Regions from separate parts of the Homo sapiens genome. Here region 1 is linked to region 2. Evidence: fine-mapped expression QTL. Tissue or cell type: whole blood. Region 2 holds a variant in brackets; the other region holds the start of a gene. All regions are shown on one strand. Distances are from middle to middle.

The links. PIP is the estimated chance that this variant, and not a neighbour inherited with it, causes the effect.
Region 1: CDKL1 starts here. The variant in region 2 is fine-mapped to the expression of CDKL1 in whole blood (INTERVAL, PIP 0.98).

What each region holds. Positions count from the first base shown.
Region 1 is chr14:50,391,709-50,402,717 of GRCh38, forward strand. It overlaps CDKL1 (cyclin dependent kinase like 1), which reads right to left and starts at 5,173. Exons shown (of 10, transcript NM_004196.7): 1 at 5,116-5,173; 2 at 3,993-4,621. The coding sequence starts at 4,160. RefSeq lists silencers at 4,877-5,326, 5,266-5,491 and an enhancer at 5,085-5,584.
Region 2 is chr14:50,361,383-50,372,391 of GRCh38, forward strand. All of the region lies in intron 2 of CDKL1 (cyclin dependent kinase like 1), which reads right to left. Among named protein-coding and RNA genes, the nearest start is that of CDKL1, 30 kb to the right of the region's middle. RefSeq lists enhancers at 1,528-1,937, 2,078-2,127, 9,921-10,422, 10,423-10,922 and a silencer at 4,442-4,607. The variant AT/A (reference allele first, on the strand shown) is at 6,641.

The DNA of each region.
Region 1 (11,009 bases), 30 kb after region 2:
ATTTATGTTTGGTATGGTTCAGGGCAGTAACTCAAGGTCACGGGTCCAGCAATTCTCTCCCTCCTCCAACATCAAGTTTTTTCTCTACTGGATTTATTTACACCATTAGCATACAAATGTACTTCTCACTCGTATAATAAAAACAACCACAAAAAAAACCTGTCTTCAGCCCACATCTTTACGAACACCTCTGCCCCATTTTTGTCTTCCTTTTGTAATAAAACTCTTCAAAACAGTTGCCCATATCATTATCTCCACTTTGTTCCTCTCGTCTCTCTTAATCCCTTGCTGATGAAGGTTTCATTCCTGCCTCTCCACTCACACAGCTCTTGTCAAGGTCGCCAAAGACCCTCACATGATCAAAGCCAATGGCTAATCCTAAATCTACTAATGGAGACACAGAGCATCCCCTCACTTTTGAACAATCTTCTTCACTAAGCTTTTAAGAACACTATGGCCAGGAGCGGGGGCTCACGCCCATAATCCTAGCACTTTGGGAGGCCAAGGTGGGCGGGTCATTTGAGGTCAGGAGTTTGAGACCAGCCTGACCAACATGGTGAAACCCTCTCTCTACTAAAAATACAAAAAGTGGCCAGGTGTAGTGGCAGGCACCTCTCATCCCAGCTACTTGGGAGGCTGAGGCAGGAGAATCTCTTGAACCTGGGAGGCGGAGGTTGCAGTGAGCTGAGATTGTGCCACTGCACTCCAGCCTGGGTAGCAGAGTGAGACTGTCTCCAAAAAAGAAATAATAATAATAATAATAATAATAATAATAATAATAATGAAAGAACATTGTTCTATGGGGTTTCCTACCATGCAGATCGCCTCTTCTTGCCTCCCTTGCCGGTTCCTTTTCATCTTCCTGACCCCCAAAGGCTGGGTACACCAAGCTTCCACCTTTAGTACCTGTCCCTCCATCCCACATGGTGACCTCCTCCGGTCCCACAGCTTTAAATACCATCGATATGCTTATGTCCCCCAACTCTGTCTCCAACCTGGACTTCCCCTGAATGCCAGACTTGTGTAGTCAACTGCCTACTTTACAAGTCTCCTTGGGTTCACAACTCAAACTTAACCTGTCCAAAACAGAGCTCTTCATCTCCTTTCCCCCACATTTGCACCTGGGTCTCTCTATCACAGTGAACAATCTCCTCATTCTTCCAGTCAATCAGTCAAAAACCTTGAAATTGTTCTTGATTTCTCATCCAATCATTAGATTCCTATGTGCTCTTCTTTCAGAAGAAATCTAGAATATGACTTGATCCTGCCGGACCCTGGCTTCCCCCTTCCTTCTCTCCCTGGCCTGTTAGCACCCACTGGGCATCTTGGCTAAGACACTGGGTTATTACCTGTGTTCCCTCAATATAGGGTGCTTTCTACTTATGCACCTTTTCCTAGGATAGAGTGTCTGCCTGAAATGCCTTATCTCTCATTCCACGTTTCCCTAAACATTTCAAAGTTCAGCTCAAACATGCCTCCAATCACTTTATTTTCACCATTCAACAAGCACCTAAAGAGTTCTTACCAGGCAAGGGTACACATGCCCTGCTCACTGGGAACCCAGTCTATAAGGGGTGAGAGCCAAAGGGCAATTCAACTTACCTCCCTTCCAAGAGCTGAGCTTCTGAAAGACAGGGTGTACAACTTTGCATAAACATCGTTTTAGGCACAACTGGGGCTCTATGAGTATTTACTGAATCCATAAATGGAGAAAATAAAATGTTCATTTACCATACCCTCAATTCACCTACTCAACAAATATTTATTAAGTATCTTTATTTTATAAGTGACAGGGTCTCACTGTCACCCAGGCTAGATAGAATACAGTGGCCTAATCATAGCTCACCATAGCCTTGAACTGCTGGGCTTAAGCCATCCTCTTGCCTTGGCCTCTTTCCTTAGTAGCTAGGACCACAGGCACGCACCACCATGCCCAGCCTAGTACGTATTATGTGTTAGGAATATCACACAACTCTGAAAAGTTACAGCTTTAAAGAACAGACTCTACCTATAATCTAGTCCCACCATTTCATAGAGATCAGTGGTGTCTACATCTGTGCACTTAATTTGGAGAGTGGGGTGCTGCATGCTTTGAAATCAGGCTCATGTGTACACAACCCCATCCTTTGGAGGATATCAATATTCAGATAAGAGAACACATTTGACTTCCCCATTTATTGGCAACATCCACCTTTGTTAAGAGTTTATTTTGTTAACTTTTTTTTCCAATCCAACAATGACATTTTTTGGAGGCCTAGATGTGCCAACTAGTGTGCTTTGGGGATATAGAGCTACAGAGGCAAGGTCTCCATCCCAGAAGAACTCAATGAATTTGGGGAGCTATCACTGTTAATGTAGTATTGATAAAGTGTAGTGAGAGATTTGAAAGGAGCATTCACAAAAGTAATCTTCAGAATCAGAAAAAGAGTATCTTTCTGCAAGAAACAGATTTTCTTTCAGGTAAATGAACCCTTTGAAATGTAATGATCACCTCCTCCCCTGGGAAAGCCTGAGGAAGTGAAAATGCCCAACAGCCTCTCCCTGTGTACAGAGAGGGTAAGGGTAGGGTGACCCGGGCAGGGGGATGGTCAAAACACTGCAGGTCTCACCCCTGCCCATGGGAGCACTCCCCTGCGGGGCTTTGGAAGCATCTCCTCTCAATAGATAATATCCTGTTGGTTAAGAACATTCCAAACCTAAATAGAGAAGTTGCCCTGTTACCCACCCATTCCAATTTATCCAAAGCTTGCTACTTTCCATTTAGGTTCCTTATCTAGAAGTGACCCCACACACTTATCCATGGGCACAAGATTTGTAGAGTGATCTGGAGAAAATGGAGAAGCAAGAATAATAGTAAATCCCCTGGAAGTTTCATTCATCTGTCTCTCATCAAGTAGCTCTTCCCTTGTCACATAGTAGTTATACAGGTCAGAACAGAGAGGCCATAACTGAAACAAAGTTGACCTCCACCATATTCATTACATGTCACCTTTCACATTGCGATTTGGATTTTACCTTCACAGAAGTTCTGTAAAGTAGTCTCTCCATTAGCGAAAAACACACTTTCAGCTTGTAATAAATACCTTTCCCCCCTCTGATATCATGTTATTTTTAGGGTTAACTAATAAACATTTGAAAAGTGATCAGGCCAGGCTCGATGGATCATGCCTGTAATCCCACCACTTTAGGAGGCCAAGGTGGAAGGATCACTTAAGGCCAGGAACTCGAGACCAGCCTGGCCAACATAGCAAGATCCCATCTCTAAAAAATGTTAAAAAAAATTAGAAAGTGATCATTTCACTTCTTTAAGAAAAACGCTTCTTTTTAGAAACGGGACATGATGATGCTCAGCAGTAAATACATATGAGGTGTAATGAGAATCTGTGAGCTTCCTAGCAGTTTGAAAACAGGTAAATGTTAATTCTCTTAATAGACTGAGTATACCAATAGGAAATACCTTAGAAGTTTAAAAATCAACAATGCCAGCAAAATTGAATTGTCTTACATTCCTATACTATCAAATTGTAATGGTCCTTGAAAACCCAGGTCTACAGGTGGGAGAGAAATTATGGGGAAGAAAAATAAATATCCCACAGCATCTCTAAAAGTGAATGCCACCTTACCTGGCACTTTTGTCTCTGCTTTCTAGTTCATTATATAATTAGTGACTTGTGCACAGATATCCCATTTGTGTCACTGAAGTCAAAAGGCTATGAAGTAAGATATAACCATGTCCCATGACATTCTTTTAACATAACATGACTCACTTTATTTCTTTCATCCCTAAAAATTCACTTTAAAGAAAAAGTGGATCCCGGAGCAGTGGCTAGAACCTGTAATCCCAGCTACTCAGGAGGCTGAGGCAGAAGCATGGCTTGAGCCCAGGAGTTCCAGGCTGCTGTGAGCTATGATCACATGGCTGCACTCCAGCCTGGGAGACAGAGTGAAACCCTGTCTCGAAAAAGAAAAAAAAGGAAAAGTGAATCAATTACCTTGAGCATTCGGATTTCCCGAAGGGCAATTTTCTTTATGACAGGGTCATCTTCTGATTCCAGAAACTTCTTGATGGCCACAATCTGACCCGTGTCCCTGTTTCTACATTTGAAAACAACTCCATAGGATCCTTCTCCAATTTTCCCAATTTTTTCATACTTCTCCATCATAGAGGAATAAATCTTCTTAAAATGGATCTTCAGCCGAGAATGGTGGCTCACGCCTGTAATCCCAGCACTTTGGGAGGCTGAGGCGGGCAGATCACCTGAGGTCAGGAGTTCGAGACCAGTCTGGCCAACATACTGAAACTCCGTCTCTACTAAAGATACAAAAAATTAGCCGGGTGTGGTGATGGGCGCCCGTAGTCCCAGCAACTCAGGAGACTGAGGCAGGAGAATCGCGTGAACCTGGGAGGCGCAGGTTGCAGTGAGCCGAGATCGCGCCACTGCACTCCAGCCCGGGCGACAGAGCGAGATTCCGTCTCAAAAAAAAAAAAAAAAAAAAAAAAAAAAGAAAGAAAGAAAAGAAAAGAAAGGATCTTCACATAGTTTGAAAACGTCGCTTATAAAATATTGGCACCAACGGACTGCACTAGAGCCCCACCCAACGATGAGTGTTTGTCACGGTCCTAGAACAGAACAGCACATGTTAAGGAATGAAGAGTGTACCCGTGTCGGCAATGGCAACGCGATCAGGAGTAACAGCCTAGAGTTAGCTGCCTCCAGTAACCCGATTTTAATCGCCCGTTAAATACCCTGTAAGTTAAAATGTAACTTGCCATCCTAAAACGAGCCGAGCTGTAAGATAAGCTATCTTTTTAACGTTATCGTTCATCCGATCTAAGACACCTGAGCTGGCTGGAGTACGGGGAGGGCTAAGGGCTTCCCCGGTTCTAATTTCGGGTCTCATTTCCCTGCGGCAAGAAGACACCTCCCGGCTCCCCGCGGAGGCGGCGGCGAGGCTTGGCCGCAGGAGACCAACCCGCGCCCCGCGCCCCACGCCCCCGGGACTGGGAAAACCCTCCCGCGCCCGGACGTGCACCTCAGCCGCGCCGCGCAGCATGGAGCGGTGCCACGTGTTGGCCAGGGACGGCCCGCGCCTCCTTGCCCGCCCGGGACTCACGGCGCCGCGGCGGTCAGGGACGGGCCTGGCTCCCGCCTCGCCTTCTTCCGCCCAGCTCGGCTCGGCGTGGCTCGGCCCGCGATCCCTATGGGAACCGGCTCCCGCCCCGGGTCTGCCTGGGCGGGGCCGCCGCGCCCCAGCTTCCCACCCCCGGCCCGGCCCAGCCCGGCCGCCCTCCCGGCTGCAGGGAAAGGCCTCGGAGGGCCGCCCTCCGTCCATGGGAGCTGTCCTGACCGCGGGCCGAGTCCTGCTGCCGGGAGAGCAGACCTGCTAGATTTGCAAACTTCCGCAGGCCGTGCAAAGCGCAGCTGTAACCGCGTCTGCGGAGCAAGACGCCTGCGCTAGGAGCCCCTCCTGAGCGGTCCACATTTCCCTGCAACAGCAGTCCCCACACCTCAGAACCGCGGTTATTCCCTTTGGTCCCTTGGAGGCATCTTCTGTGTCTGTGCTGATCAGTGCTGCGGCGTCAGTGAATGAATGAGAGGGAGAAAGGAAAGAAGAGGAAGGCGTGACTGCAGAAATTGCTTAAAGTCAGCACTTTCCTCTACAGTAGGGAAGGTTCCACGGCAGTCTTCTGCTGTGGGACTTTTCTGGTGTGGGAGGTGGAAGCTTACAGAGTCTGCCTTAATTGTTTTTGGTTCCTTTCCCCCATCTTTCTCCCAACGGACTCCTACTGCTCAAATCTGAGCACACTGGCGGGAAGCGGATGGACCTGGGGAAATTATGAAATCATGTCAGTTGCCACTGGGCAGAGTGCCTCACACTTTATCATCCGTCCCGTTCCCAGTGCCAGCATCAATGCGGGTACTTGTCCTGGAAGCAGTACCCGAGGAGAGAAAATTAACACAGTGTCTATGAAACAGGGGCCAATCCCGTGTCAAGCAGCATGCTACTAAATGTAAACCCAGGAAGGGTTCAGAAAGGAGCCTGGAGCTGAGGAGAGAGGGCTGGTGGCTGCCCTGGAAACCCAGTACAAGGATGGCCTAGAGGTGGTCTGTGAACAGAAATTGTTTGCAAATGGCAACCATTGATCTGTTTTCTGTCTCTATAGTTTTGCCTTTTCCAGAATGTCATGAAAATGGAATCAGACCGTATGTAGCCTTTTGAGGATAGAGGATCTCCCCCACCACCCCAACTCCAGTGAGCTTTCAGATGAGATTGTAGCCCCAGATGACAATGTAAGTTCAATCTTGTGAGAGACCTTGAGCCAGGGGCACCCAGCTAAGCCATACTTGGGTTCCTGACCTCTAGAAACTGAAATATGTTTGCTATTATGTTTTGGGGTAATTTGTTATGCAACCATATGTATCTAACACAGAAGCCTTTTATTAATAGGAGGTTGAGAAAGTTCACTTTCATTCCTAGTTTGCTTAGTGTTTTTGTTTGCTTTTTAAAATTATGAATGGATGTTGAATTTTATCAAATGCATTTCTTCATCTAGAGGTGATCATTTCCTTTTCCTTTCTTTTCTTTTTTTTTTTTAATTGAGAGGGAGTCTCGCTCTGTCACCCAGGCTGGAGTGCAGTAGTGTTATCACTGCTCACTGTACCCTTGAACTCCTGGGCCTAAGCAATCCTCCCACTTCTGCCAGGCCTGAGTAGCTAGAATTATAGGTGTGCACCACCTAATTGTTTTTATGTAGTCTGTTGATACGGTGAATTATATTGATTTTTAGATGTTGAACCAACCTTTTGTTCCTGGGATAAACCCAACTTATTTATGATTTTATCATTTTAATGTATTGCTGGATTTGATTAGTAATATTTTATTGGAAATTTTTACATTCATGTTTTGAGAGATATTGATGTATAGTTTTCTTGTAATATCTGCTAATTTTGGCATCAGGATAATGCTGATCTCAGAAAATGAGTTGGGAAGTGTTTATCTTCCCTTTTATTTTCTAGAGATGTTTACATTAAATTGGTATTATTAATTCCTTAAATGTTTGGAAGAATTTTTTTTGTTTTTTTTTTTGAGACAGTCTTGCTCTGTCATCCAGGCTGGAGTGCAGTGGTGTGATCTTGGCTCACTGCAACCTCTGCCTCCCAGGCTCAGGCGATCCTCTTGCCTCAGCCTCCAAAGTAGGTGTGCCACCACGCCTGGCTAATTTTTGTGTTTTTTGTAGAGACAGGGTTTCACCATATTGCCTAGGCTGGTCTCCAACTACTGAGCTCAGATAATCTGCCTGCCTCAACCTCCCAAAGTGCTGGGATTACAGGCATGAGCCACTGCACCCCGCCTTCTAATATAAGCATTTAATGCCATAATTTTTCCTGTAAGCACCACTTTAAATACATCACAGAAATCTTAATATGTTGTATCATCATTTTCATTCAGTTCAAAATATTTTTTTTTTTTTTTTTTTTTTTGAGATGGAGTCTCACTCTGTCACCCAGGCTAGAGTGCAATAGTGTGATCTCGGCTCACTGCAACCTCCGCCTCCCAGGTTCAAGCGATTCTCCCACCTCAGCCTCCCAAGTAGCTGGAACTACAGGCATGCACCATCATGCCCAGCTAATTTTTGTATTTTTAGTACAGACAGGGTTTCATCATGTTGGCCAGGCTGGTCTTGAACTCCTGACCTCAAATGATGCTCCCGCATTGGCTCCCAAAGTGCTGGGATTATAGATGTGAGCCACCATGCCTGGCCCAAAAATATTTTCCTTGTGACTTCCTTTTTGACTCATGGGTTATTTTTGTAGTGTGTTAATTTCCAACTATTTGGTGATTTTTAAAGATATCTGTTATTGATTTCTAGTTTAATTCCATTATTTTCAGAGAACTCAGTTTATATGACTTAAATTCTTTGAAATGTTTTATTTTGTTTTATGACCCAGAAAGAATATGGTCTATGTTCATGAATGTTTCTTTTTGACAATTAAAAAAAATATTTTGAAATGAAGTGAGAAAGTCAGTGTGAATTTCCCCAGAGCTGCATCGTCTGAAGTTCATACCAGGTTAAATCAAGTTTGTCTGGAAAATTAACTTTATGGACTCCACAACGTCAGTACCCAAAGAGCCTGGAACTGTGCCAGGCCTAGTGGTAGTTAAAGTAGGAGCCAGTGTACTGGTTATTTATGCCCAAGTAGGCAGTGAACCAGAAAGCTAGCATGACTTGCAGCTGCAAGTTGTTTTGTTTGGAGGAATTTGAAATAAAATATTAGAGAACAACTTTAAAAGGGAGATGAACAGTCGGCTGTCACCACTTAGCACAAAAGAGAGAAGGTAACGTGGCCTCTAGACTAGTCAAACTGACAGTCCTTTCCCTTGGCAGGTGCGACACTGGTTTTGGTATCAAAGAAGTATATAACTCCTGGAAAGTATAGCTCTTGGGAATCTCAGAAATGGTCTGTTATGTGGGGGCTTTTTCTCAAGCCAGTGCAAAGTGAAACAGCATTATATTCTGCTAATAGTGATCTTTTCTTTGCAGTTTGTATAATTAGCGAGAATACTTCAGTGTTCTTAGAACAGCACAAACCGTACTATGGTATTTTAATCATTTAAGGAAAAATAAACATTCAGTAGGGTAACATATGGTCACAGAAAAAGCCTGGAATTTGGAGTCAGAAGACCAGGATTTCTACCTACTTACTGGTGTTTGATCTTGTGCAAGATAATTACTATTGCCTATATAACAACATTATTTAATGAGTGCTTACTTTGTGGCAGGCATTATGCTATGAATATTTGACCCATGAGCCTCACAATAACCCCAGGAGATAGGCATTAAATATCATCCTGAGCTTTCAGATGACTCTCATTGAGTTGGAGAGGATAAGTAGCTAGCCTAAGGACACCCAGCTAGTGAAGTGTGAAGTCAGTATTGGAATGCAGGTGGTTTGACTCCAGAATCTTTTCTCCTAACCATTTTGCTAATACTACCTAATGCATTGTGGTGGTTGTCAGGATTATTGAGTTAATGTGTAGGACATTGAGAGCTGGCGCAGAGCACTTAAAATGATGCACAGTGTAGCACCTTCCTCCTTTTTTTTAGGCTACCGGGAAGACTCATCTTGTCTATATGCTCCCTTCTCATGGTAGCTCAGCAACTTCATGTGTGTGCAGCTCCAGCACCAGGAGAATGAACTTCCATGAGATTGGGCAGAACACTGAAGCCTCATCTGAGTGCAGAACCCAGGGCCAATGCTTGAAGCCTTTTTTCTTTTTTTTTGAGATGGAGTCTCGCTTTGTTGCCCAGGCTGGAGTGCAATGGTGCGATCTCGGCTGACTGCAAACTCTGCATCCCAGGTTCAAGCCATTCTCCTGCCTCAGCCTCCCGAGTAGCTGGGACTGCAGGCACCCGCCACCACACCTGGCTACTTTTTTGTATTTTTAGTAGAGATGGGGTTTCACTGTGTTGGCCAGGCTGGTCTCGAACTCCTGACCTCGTGATCCGCCCGCCTCAGCCTCCCAAAGTGCTGGGATTACAGGCATGAGCCACCGTGCCCAGCCAGCTTTTTTTTTTTTTTTTCCAATTATGTTGTAAGGAAAGGGGAGTTGAGTCAATGTCATTTTAAAATGACACTCTACAGCAGCTTGAGGAAATACTTGAATTTATTGTCTCTGTTTTAAGTGGAATTGGGAAAGAAATTGATTCCAGAGTCCATACAGACAAAAGCTAATAACTATCATTTAGGGACGCATTTCAGGCTCAGTATCCACATTATCTCTGATCTTTATGACAATCTTACATGGATTTGTTAACTGACTGGGATTATTAACTGGCCTGTTTTATGAAAGAAGAAGCTGAGGCTCTGAGAGATTGATCAGTAGAGACAAAGCCACCCTGCTATCAAGGGCTGAACACAGGTTTCAGGCCCAACTCTGCCTGTTTCCAAAGCCCATGCTCTTGTAGTGGTGAATGGAGTTAGAACAACTAAGAATGCCTTGAGAATGATCCTCTGTCCTTGGATGCCCTAGAGAGCTAACAGCAGGGCAGACCTGCTGGTCCAATCCGAATTCACAACATCCTGAAGAGAAGCCAGGTGTCAGCTGTCAGCCGCATTCTTCTTGACCAATCACTGCTAGAATGTTACAAAGCCAGGCATGCAAATAACTTTCCCTTTACCTGGAGATAGAAAAGAATGCTGAATCAGCTGGGCATGGTGGTTCATGCCTGTAATCCCAGCACTTTGCGAGGCCGAGGCGGGCAGATCACATGAGGTCAGGAGTTCGAGACCAGCCTGGCCAACATGGTGAAACCCCGTCTGTATTAAAAATACAAAATTAGCTAGGCATGGTGGTGCATGCCTGTAGTCCCAGCTACGCGGGAGGCTGAGGGAGGAGAATCACTGCAACCCAGGTGGCAGAGGTTGCAGTGAGCCAAGACTGTGCCACTGTACTCCAGCCTGGGTGACAGAACAAGACTCCATCTCAAAAAAAAAAAAAAAAAAAAAAAGACTGCTGAATCAATGTAAATATATGGGAAAATCAATTTTAAAAGGAGCCTATCATTTCTGATTTTATATATAGGCTCAGCCAATAGTAAAGTAAAATGTCTTCATTCTCTAATTAACCTTAGTTATTCTGTATGTATTTTTTCCTTTTAAATATTTATTGTACTTTTTAATTAATTAATTTATTTATTTTGAGATGGAGTCTCTGTCACCCTGGCTGGAGTGCAGTGGTGCAATATTGGCTCACTGCAACCTCTGCCTCCTAGAGTAGCTGGGATTACAGGCCTACACCACCATGCCTGGCTAATTTTTATATTTTTAGTAGAGATGGGGTTTCACCATGTTGGCAAAGCTGGTCTCAAACTCCTGACTTCAAGTGGTCCACCCGCCTCAGCTTTCCATAGTGCTCAGATTACAGGCGCGAGCCACTGTGCCTGGCCTTTATTGTACTTTATATATGATGAGCTAGTCCTTTTAAAGTACCTTTTCTTCTAAAAT
Region 2 (11,009 bases):
TCTAAAGCTCATGTCTTATTAGTCCATTTGTGCTGCTATAACAAAATACCTGAGACTGGGTAATTTATAAAGAACAGAACTTTTTTTCTTACAGTTCCGCATGCTGGGAAATCCAAGATCAAGGTGCTGGCACTGGTGTCTGCGGAGGCATGCTCTCTGCTTCCAAAATGGCACCTTGTTGCTGTGTCCTCACATGGCAAAAGGCAGAAGGGCAAGAGAGCACCCCCCTCAACCTTGAGCTCTTTATACGGGTGCTAATCCCATTCATGAGGGCTCTGCCTCCCAGCGGCCACACCTCTTAATACAGTTGCACTGGGGGTGAAGTTTCAACATGAATTTTGGAGGACGCACCACCATCATTGAAACAGAGCAGCCCATTAATCACCTTTGTGAGAGGTGACAGCATGCTGGCAGCCCTGGCAGTCCTCGCTCGCTCTCGGCGCCTTCTCTATCTGGGCTCCCACTTTGGCGGCACTTGAGGAGCCCTTCAGCCCGCCGCTGCACTGTGGGAGCCCCTTTCTGGGCAGGCCAAGGCCGGAGCCGGCTCCCTCAGCTTGCAGGGAGGTGTGGAGGGAGAGGCGCAGGCGGGAACCGGCGAGTTCCGGGTGGGCATGGGCTTGGGGGGCCCGGCACTCTAGCGGCCCCCTGGCCCACAAGCCCCGGGCAGTGAGGGGCTTAGCACCTGGGCCAGCAGCTGCTGTGCTCGACTTCTGGCCGGGCCTTAGGTGCCTCCCTGCAGGGCAGGGCTCAGGACCTGCAGCCTGCCATGCCTGAGCCTCCCCTCCCCACCCCCCCACCCCCACCGTGGGCTCCTGCGCGGCCGAGCCTCCACGATCAGAACCGCCCCCTGCTCCGCAGCACCCGGTCCCATCGACCACCCAAGGACTGAGGAGTGCGGGCGCACGGCATGGGACTGGCAGGCAGCTCCACCTGTGGCCTGGTGTGGGATCCACTGGGTGAGGCCAGCTGGGCTCCTGAGTCTGGTGGGGACTTGGAGAACCTTTATGTCTAGCTAAGGGATTGTAAATACACCAATCGGCACTCTGTATCTTGTTCAAGGTTTGTAAACACACCAATCAGCACCCTGGGTCTAGCTCAGGGTTTGTGAATGCACCAACTGGCACTCTGTAACTAGTTACTCTGGTGGGGACTTGGAGAACCTTTATGTGTAGCTAAGGGATTGTAAATACACCAATCAGCACCCTGTGTCTAGCTCAGGGTTTGTGAATGCACCAATCGACACTCTGTATCTAGCTACTCTGGTTAGGACTTAGAGAACATTTGTGTCCACACTCTGTATCTGGCTAATCTAGTGGGGACGTGGAGAACTTTTGTGTCTAGCTCAGGGATTGTAAATGCACCAATCAGCACCCTGTCAAAACGGACCAATCACCTCTCTGTAAAACAGACCAATTGGCTCTCTGTAAAATGGACCAATCAGCAGGATGTGGGTAGGGCCAGATAAGAGAATAAAAGCAGGCTGCCCGACCCAGCAGTGGCAACCTACCCTGGGCACCATTCACACTGTGGAAGCTTTGTTCTTTCACTCTTTGCAATAAATCTTGCTGCTGCTCACGCTTTGGGTCCGCACTGCTGTAACACTTATGGCAAAGGGCTGCAGCTTCACTCTTGAAGCCAGGGAGACCACGAACCCACTGGGAGGAAAGAACAACTCCAAACACACTGCCTTAAGAGCTGTAACACTCACTGCGAAGGTCTGCAGCTTCACTCTTGAGCCAGGGAGACCACAAACCCACCAGAAGGAAGAAACTCAACACATCCGAACATCAGAAGGAACAAACTCCGGACACGCCGCCTTTAAGAAGTGTAACACTCACCGCGAGAGTCTGTGGCTTCATTCTTGAAGTCAGTGAGACCAAGAACCCACCAATTCCAGACACGTTTGGATCTTAGAACTGAGGGCACTCCAAGCTATAAAATGCCACATTTGTTATCATACCTGAAAACCCTTAGCCTGAACTAACATTCTCCAAACATAGTAGGATAGAACTGACTACTGTCTTAAACCTCTGAATTGGATTGACTAAGATGTCTCAACCAGAGAGTAAACAACCAGGTTAAAAGGGGCTAAATACTAACTTTATGATAGAATTCGCAGAAAGCAGAAGTTTTCTTTCAGACTGAAAAATAATCATCCTTAGGCTTTACTTTCATTTTCACACTATTTGCTCCCTTGACAGGATGTGACATTGAGGCCAAGACTTTGAATCTTAGAATTCTCTTTCCATTTTCCACATTCCATATTTAGTCCTCATGTCTCCAGCTGGCTCTTCTAACAAAAGTAGAAATGCATCAATTCTACCCAAACAAATCCCCCGACCTTCTCTGGATGCCAAGCCTGGTGCCTCCCACTTGCCACGTCCAAACGTGCAGTGATCACAGCAGGACACTGCTGCCCCAGGACAAGGCCCAAAGGTCCTCTCCATTTGGCCTCTGCTTACCTCTCCAGCCCCAACACTTATAACTTCCTTCTGGACCCACTGAATTTCTCTCACTTCCTAGAAGGCTCACACTCCCTTTCATTTCAGGATGTGTTCAGTTTCCTGTCTCTAAAGCATGCCCCACCTCCAGATGTTACTTTCTCTATTCAGCTTCCTCTGCTCCACCCTGACACAGCTGGTATGTACCGCAAGAGCTATGATCTGGGCACCCAAGCAAGGAGTAGCACTGTGCCAGTAAAGGACACTGTCACAGCCATATCCATTTGTCTGAATGGGACCAGTAACTGTTATATTGCACCCACCTTGCTACGTTACTATACATCTTTTGAAAACCAAAGTTCTTAGCTGGGCGTGGTGACTCATGCCTGTAATCCCAGCACTTTGGGAGGCCAAGGCAGGCGGATGCCTGAGTTTAGGAGTTCAAGACCAGCCTGGGCAACATTGTGAAACTCTGTCTCTACTAAAACTACAAAAATTAGCTGGGCGTGGCGGCACGCACCTGTAATCCCAGCTACTCGGGAGACTGAGGCATGAGAATCACTTGAACCCAGGAGGCAGAGGTTGCAGTGAGCCCAGATTGTGCCACTGCACTCCAGCCAGGGCAACAGAGCAAAACTCTGTCTCTAAATAAATAAATAAATTTATTTTAAAAAAGGAAACAAAACTGAGGTTCTGATAACTGCATGTATTAAATATTCAAATAACATGTAGGTTCTTTCCAATTTTTTGCTATTATAAATAAGATTTTGATAAGCAACTTATTAGCTGGTTGCCTCACTTGGACCAAATTAGGTAAGTTCTGTAGGCCTCAGTTTTCCATCTGTAAGAGTAAGAAGCGCAAGGGCTGTACTGCCAATTACACACAGGCACATACAACAGGGTCAGGTAAATATTAACCTCTCTGTAAAGGTTAATTATTGATATTGTTACCTTTGGGTTAAATCTATTTTTATTTAGAATGATTTTTCTCTATTCATTTTATTCAACAATTATTTATATATCTTAAGGTGCATATGGCACTGTGTTAGCCCTAAGGATATAGAGACAAATAAAGCAAGTACTGCCCCTACCGGCCTGGAGCTTAGAACCTAGGAAAGGAGACAGATGTTGGAGAAGTAATTATAGCTATGATAAATGTTATAAAAATGAGGTAAAGTGTACCTGGTTTGAGGGTGAGGTGTGGTTCAGGGAAAATCTCTTTGAGGAAGTGGCCATTAAGTTAATGATTCATTAACTGAGAATGACCTGAAGTTAACTGGGCACCATCTAGAGCCCCAGAAATGTGGCTCTAACTAGATAGAGTCAAATTGCTTTCCAAAAGGATTGTGAATATTTACCCCTTGGCCAGGAGTATGACAGTATTTTTACCATATTATGGCCAGCTTTAAGGAGCCTATAGACAATTTAAGGCTTGTGATATATATTGCCAAATTGCTTCCTTTGAGGGCTTACAGTGCCTCTGGCAACACAGGAAGGTGTAACTTGTCTCTCCCATCTTCCTCCATGAGATGATCTTCAAATAATTGCAAATAGCTGATAACTTATCTCTCAACCTGTTTTTAGAATAATTTTAATATAGAAAGATGATCATTAATACTAAATCCTAATGAGGGGTTATAAATATTAAATTATCAATATTTTAAAATAAATTATTAACTTTCACTGGGTTGCCAGGATTCCAGGTGACCCGAAAATACTCCAGAGCAGCAGATATGTGGTCTGGCATAGCACCCTTATGAAGCCAGTCCCCGTCTAGCTGTGTTCATATATTCAACAAATATCCCTAGAGCCCTGTGATAGTTAATACTGAGTGCCAACTTGATTGGATTGAAGGATGCAAAGTACTGTTTCTGGCTGTGTCTGTGAGGGTGTTGCCAAAGGAGATTAACATTTGAGTCAGAGGACTAGGAGAGACAGACCCACCCTCAATCTGGACGGGCACCATCTAATCAGCTGCCAGCACAGCTAGAATAATGCAGGCACTTGATTTGCTGAGTCTTCCGGCCTTCATCTTTCTCCCGTGCTGGATGCTTCCTGCCCTCGAACATTAGACTCCAAGTTCTTCAGCTTTTGGACTCTTGGACTTACACAGTGGTTTGCCACGGGCTCTCCGGCCTTCAGCCACAGACAGAAGGCTACACTGATGGCTTCCCTACTTTTGAGGTTTTGGGACTCAGCTTGCAGACGGCCTGTTGTGGGACTTCATCTTGTGATCATGTGAGCCAATTCTCCTAATAAGCTCCCCTTCATATATACATCTATCCTATTGGTTCTGTCCCTCTAGAGAACCCTGACTAATATAAGCACCTACTCTGCATCAGGTATTGGTGAAAGAGACAGAGGACTCAGGCATTAAACAAAGAAGTGCCAAAAATAATCTATGAAATTAGGCTGTCTCAGAGAAACTGGCCCTGAGGAAGTGACCTTGAGCCGAGTCTAGAGGGTAAAGGTCTGACCAAACCAAGGGCAGGGGTGGTGGTAAAGGCAAAGATGGCAGCTTTCCAGGCAGTGACTGGCCCTGAGTCAGGAGAGAACTTGGGTCACTTCAGCAACTGAAAGACAGTGTGGCTGGTGGGTGAAGCTCGTGGAATCAAGGCCAGCCAGTCAGAAGGCAGATCCTACAGGGCCTTGCAGGCCACGCTAAGCAATTCACTCTATCCTAGTGCAATGGGAAGCCACTGGAAGGATTTCAGCAAGACGTGATATGATACCATGGGGCTCTTAAAAGCTCACTACAGCAACAGGATATAGAATGGCTTGGAGGACGCAAAATGGATGAAGTGGCTGTTGATAGCTGACATTGTGGTGACTTGGAGCAGAGCAGAGGCAGGGTAGTCGGTGAGAAGCATTGTCTTGAGATGTATTTTGTTATCAGAATAGTCCGGATGTGGTGATCGGCTGGAGGTGAGGGACAGGGGAGAAGGAAGTGTCAAAAATGACACAAAGGTTTACACACTGGAACTGTCAAAAATGACACAAAGGTTTACACACTGGGGCAGATGGTGATGCCATCACAGAGAGGGGGAGTAAGACTGGGAGAAAGAAGTCACTAGCTTTGTCTCATTGAATTGGTGGGGATCTGAGACACCAAAGTGGAGTTGTTATGTCAGCCAGAGTCTGAGCTGAAGATAAAAGCCAGGGAGTCCGCATGTGTGTAAGCGAAGCCATAGACAGAGAGAGGAGATTGCCCCGAAGGAGCGAGAGTGAGATGAGAAAGCTGTCTAAAGAACCCTCCCACCCAGATGTGTGGTTGATGAGGAGGAAACACGAAAGGGGAAAGGGAAGAAAGCCCCTTAAGATGAGAGAGAAGACAGCAGAGCAGGCGCCATGGGGGCATCATGGGAGGAGGAAGTGGTCAGTGTTGACAGATGCTGCTGAAAGGTCAGATGGAAACAGAGGGCTGAGAGATGCCTGGTGGGCTTCCCTGGGTTGGGGTCGAGTGACCTTATTGGAAACGGTATCGGTGCAGTGGTGAGACCAGAAGCCAGATTATGTGGACTTAACATCTCAAACTACCTTACTCCTCTCTCTCTATTGACTCCACTGACCTCAGGGGTAGAACTCAAAGGGACACCTCTGATCCTCAAACCAGTCTGCAGCGAATAGCTGGAGGTGTCCATCATAGCCCCAACATTGTGAATGTTTGCATTCACAAGGGTTTGGATGTTTCTGCTTCAATGCTGAATGGAGTTCTTTCGGGACGTACAAACGAATTAGATGAGAAGAACTAAGCAACATGATGGACAAACTGTTACAGGCTTACCCAACATGTTCACGGTACATACAAGTAAACTTAATAGACAGAACAGGTTAAATTACCATATATACCACAAAGATGTTTGGGGCTCATTTAATGACAATTCCTTCCTATATACAAGTCTGTGAAGCCAAAGCCTCAGGTCTGGGGCGTCTGTGCTGGGCTAATCTTGAAGCTCTTGGTGCTCCTTACCAGGCCAGTATCACCGTCCTTCAGTTAATGCTCTATCTAGAAGCACGGGCCTGCTCGGACTCAGATTTACTTTCTCTTGTACAAAAGTTTCCACTTTTGCTGCTGCTATTTTATTTTAGTCTTCCTTTTATTTTCTCTTTGTGTTTTTTAAAATTTTCATTTTCAAATTATTATTACTTTTTTGAAACAGGGTCTCACTCTGTCACCCAGGTGGGAATGCAGTGGTGCA[AT/A]CACAGCTCACAGCAGCCACGAACTCCCAGGCACAAGTGATCCTCCTGCCTCAGCCTCTCAAGTAGCTGGGACTACAAATGTGTACAACCATGCCCAGCTAATTTTTAAAATTTTGTGTAGTGACAGGGTTTCGCTACGTTGCCCTGTCCGATCTTGAAATCCTGGGCTCAAGCCAACCGCCCACCTCGTCCTCCCAAAATGCTGGGATTACAGGCGTGAGACACTGTGCCTAGTCTATTTTTTATTTTTTGAGACAGGGTCTTTCTCTGTTACCCAGGCTGGAGTGCAGTGGCATGATCATGGCTCACTGCAGCCTCAAACTCCAGGCTCAAGTGATCCTCTTCCCTCAGCCTCCTCAGTAGCTGGGACTACAGGTGCACACCATCATAACAAGCTAGTTTTTTTATTTTTAAAATTTTTTTAGAGACAGTGTCTCACTATGTTGCCCAGGCTGATCTCAGACTCCTGGGCTCAAGCGATCCTCTCACCCTAGCCTCCCAAATTGCTGGGATTATGGGCGTGAGCCACTGTACCCAGCCTTCTCTCTGTGTTTCAAATACTGATGTTCCATATTATGTTGCCAAGTCAAGTATTTTCTGTGACATTAAAAAAAGGACTTCATTTTTCTGAGGTTGAATTTAGCCAGAGCCCTACCTGGTTTCCCTGCAGAGCTGAGAATGCTACGTATCCTACGTGGGCAGCTGCCTCTCTGTGTCGTCAGCCCTCTGTCTTCATTGGGCACCCATCTGTTCTGATAAGCTCAGACCCTCCATCTACTAAGGTCAATTGCTTGGCCTGTTTAGCCCATGAGATTTTGAAGAATTTTGTGCTAGTTGCCAACCTTTTTTTTTTTTTTTTTTTAGATGGAGTCTCGCTCTGTCACCCAGGCTGGAGTGCAGTGGCACAATCTCGGCTCACCACAACCTCCACCTCCAGGGCTCAAGCGATTCTCATGCCTCAGCCTCCCAAGCAGCTGGGAATACAGGTGTGCACCACCATGCCTGGCTAATTTTTGTATTTTTAGTAGAGACAGGGTTTCACCATGTTGGCCAGGCTGATCTCAAACTCTTGACCTCAAGTTATCTGCCCACCTCGGCCTCCCAAAGTGCTGAGATTATAGGTGTGAGCCACCACGCCCGGCCGCTACCCTTAACCAGGAAATGTTACTTTAAAATCCTGGTTACCAAGAGTCTCTTGCAAATGCTGGGGATCAGCAGGTCTAGGCCTGTAGACTCTGTGGCACTTATGAGCTAGGGCTGAGAGCAGCTGTTCACTTTAGACAAGGCTTGTATGCTTTAGGTCACCGCAGTCACCCACTCCCTATTGCTCCCTGATCATGATGCCAAGTGAGAGTTGCTCTTTATCATCACTCTTGCATTATTGACTTTCTTATACTAGAGTTAAAAGTGAAATATTTAATATGTCCATGTTTCTATCAAAAGTAGAAAAACGTACAAGCAATAGAGGTATATTTAATTTTTTGTTGTTCTTTTAAAGCTTTATTGTAAATTGTAAACTTATTGTAAATATACAATTTATAATTATATATATACATATATTATATATAATATATATACACACATGCACACACACACACACACACACACACACATATATATATAGTTGCTCTATTGCCCAGGCTGGAGTGCAGTGGCACGATCTCAGCTCACTGCAATCTCAGCCTCCTGGGTTCAAGCAATTCTCCTGCCTCAGCCTCCTGAGTAGCTGGGATTACAGGCACCAGCCACCACCCCCAACTAATTTCTGTATTTTTAGTAGAGACAGGGTTTCACCATGTTGGCCAGGCTAGTCTCAAACTCCTGACCTCAAGTGATCCGCCCACCCCAGCCTCCCAAAGTGCTGGGATTACAGGCGTGAGCCACCATGCCTGGCTAATTATATATGTTTATGGGGTTCAAATTAATGTTAGGATTTATGACTATAATATGGAATAATTAAACCTAGCTAATTAACATATATCCATCACTTCAAATACTTACCTTTTTTTTTGTGGTAAGAACATTTGAAATCTACTCTTTTAGCAATTTTTTTTTTTTTCTTTGAGACAGAGTCTTGCTCTGTCACCCAGGCTGGAGTGCAGTGGCACGATCTTGGCTCACTCCAACCTCTGCCTCCTGGGTTCAAGTGATTTTCCTGCCTCAGCCTCCCAAGTAGCTGGGATTACAGGTGCCTGCCACCATGCCTGGCTAGTTTTTGTATTTTTAGTAAAGACAAAATTTCACTATGTTGGCCAGGTTGGCCTCAAGCTCCTGACCTCAGGTGAGCCACCTGCCTCAGCTTCCCACAGTGCTAGGATTACAGGCGTGAGCCCCTGCACTCAGCCTCTCTCAGCAATTTTGAAGTGTACAATACATAATTAACAACTGTATTCACCATGCTGTGCAACAGATCTTGGAAATGAAACTTATTCCTCTTGTCTAAGATTTTGTACCCTTCAACCATCATCTCTCCATTCTCCTCATCCCCTAGCCTCTGTAACCACCATTCTACTCTCTGCTTCTAAGAATGTATTAGGCTGTTCTCACATTGCTATAAATACCTGAGACTGGGTAATTTATAGAGAAAAGAGGTTTAATTAGCTCATGGTTCTGCCGGCTTTACAGGAAACACGGGGCTGGCATCTGCTTAGCTTCTAGGGAGGCCTCAGGAAGCTTACAATCATGGCAAAAGGTGAAGGAGGGGCAGGCATGTCACATGGCAAAACCAAGAACAAGGGAGAGAGAGGGAATTGGCAGTGGGGCATACCTGTTTAAATGACCAGATCTCACGAGAACTCACTATCACGAAGACAACACCAAGTAATGAGGGATCTGCCCCCATGATCTAAACACCTTCCACCAGACCCCATCTCCAGCACTGGGGATTATAATTCAACATGAGATTTGGGTGGAGACAAATATCCAAACTATATCAATGAATTCACTTGTTTCAGATTCCACATATAAGTGAGAACATGTGCATTTTTCTTTCTGTGCCTGGCTTACTCAGCAGCATAATGTTCCCCAATTTCATCCATGTTGTCACAAATGTCAGAATTTTCTCCTTTTTTAAGGCTGAATAGTACTGTATTGTGTATATATACTACATTTTCTTTATATATTCATCCACTGATGGCCACTTAGGTTAATTTTATGACTTTGGCTATTGTGAACAGTATTGCAATGAACATAGGAGGGCAGACATTTCAAATTTCACTTTTGGGTAAATACTCAGAAGTGGGATTGCTGGATCATATGGTAATTCTATTTTTAGTTTTGTGAGGAATCTCCATATATTTTTCCATAATTTACATTCCCATCAACAACTTTAAGGGTTTCTTTTTCTCCACATCCTCGCCAACATTTATCTTACATCTTTTTTATCACAGCCATCCTGACAGGTGTGTGATGATATATCATTGTGGTTTAAATTTGCATTTTCCTAATGATTAGAAATGTTGAGCATTTTTCCATATATCTGTTGGCCATTTGTATGTCCTCTTTTGAGAGATGTCCATTCAGATCCCAGGCTTATTTTTTCCCCCTTTTTTAGAGACAGTGATGGCACCAGTGGCCCATCTGGAGCAGCTGCTGCCATGATGCTGGCTGCAGTGGGGGAGGCGCAGCCATGGCTGTGTGCTCCCTGGAGCTGGCAGGAGCTGGGAACAGATGGGAGCCTCAGGTTGGAGGGGCAGGAGCCCCACCCTCCCAGGCAGCTGCAGACACCCAGTCATGGCTGCAGACCCGGGCATGTCTGCACACTTGGGACCTGGGAGGCCCCCCAACCCCTGCAGGCTCAGAAGTGCCATGCCTGCTCCTACTGCCTGACCTCTCCCCACTCCTGGTGCCCACTCCGATTTCAGAGCAAAGTTATGGCCAAGCCCAGGGACTGTCATGACCCAGCCAGGTGTGCGCATGCTCAGGGACATGCTGACACGCCAGCCCCCTGCTGCCTCGGACCCCTCTGGACTTTGGACACCACTGAGCATAGGAGGGAGGCCAAGGGAGGCCAAGGGAGGCCAAGGAAGGGGAACATCTAGTTTTTGAGCTGTTTGAGTGTATTATATGTTTTGGGTATTTTTGTTTTGTTTTGTTTTGTTTTGTTTTTGAGACGGAGTCTCACTCTGTTGCTCAGGCTGGAGTGCAGTGGAGAGATCTCGGCTCACTGCAACCCTTGCCTCCTGGCTGGGTTCAAACAATTCTTGTGCCTCAGCCTCCTGAATATTTGGGATTACAGGCGTGCACCACCACACCTGGCTAATTTCTGTATTTTTAGTAGAGACAGAGTTTTGCCATGTTGGCCAGACTGGTCTCAAACTCCTGACCTCAGGTGATCTGCCTGCCTCAGCCTCCCAAAGCACTGGGATT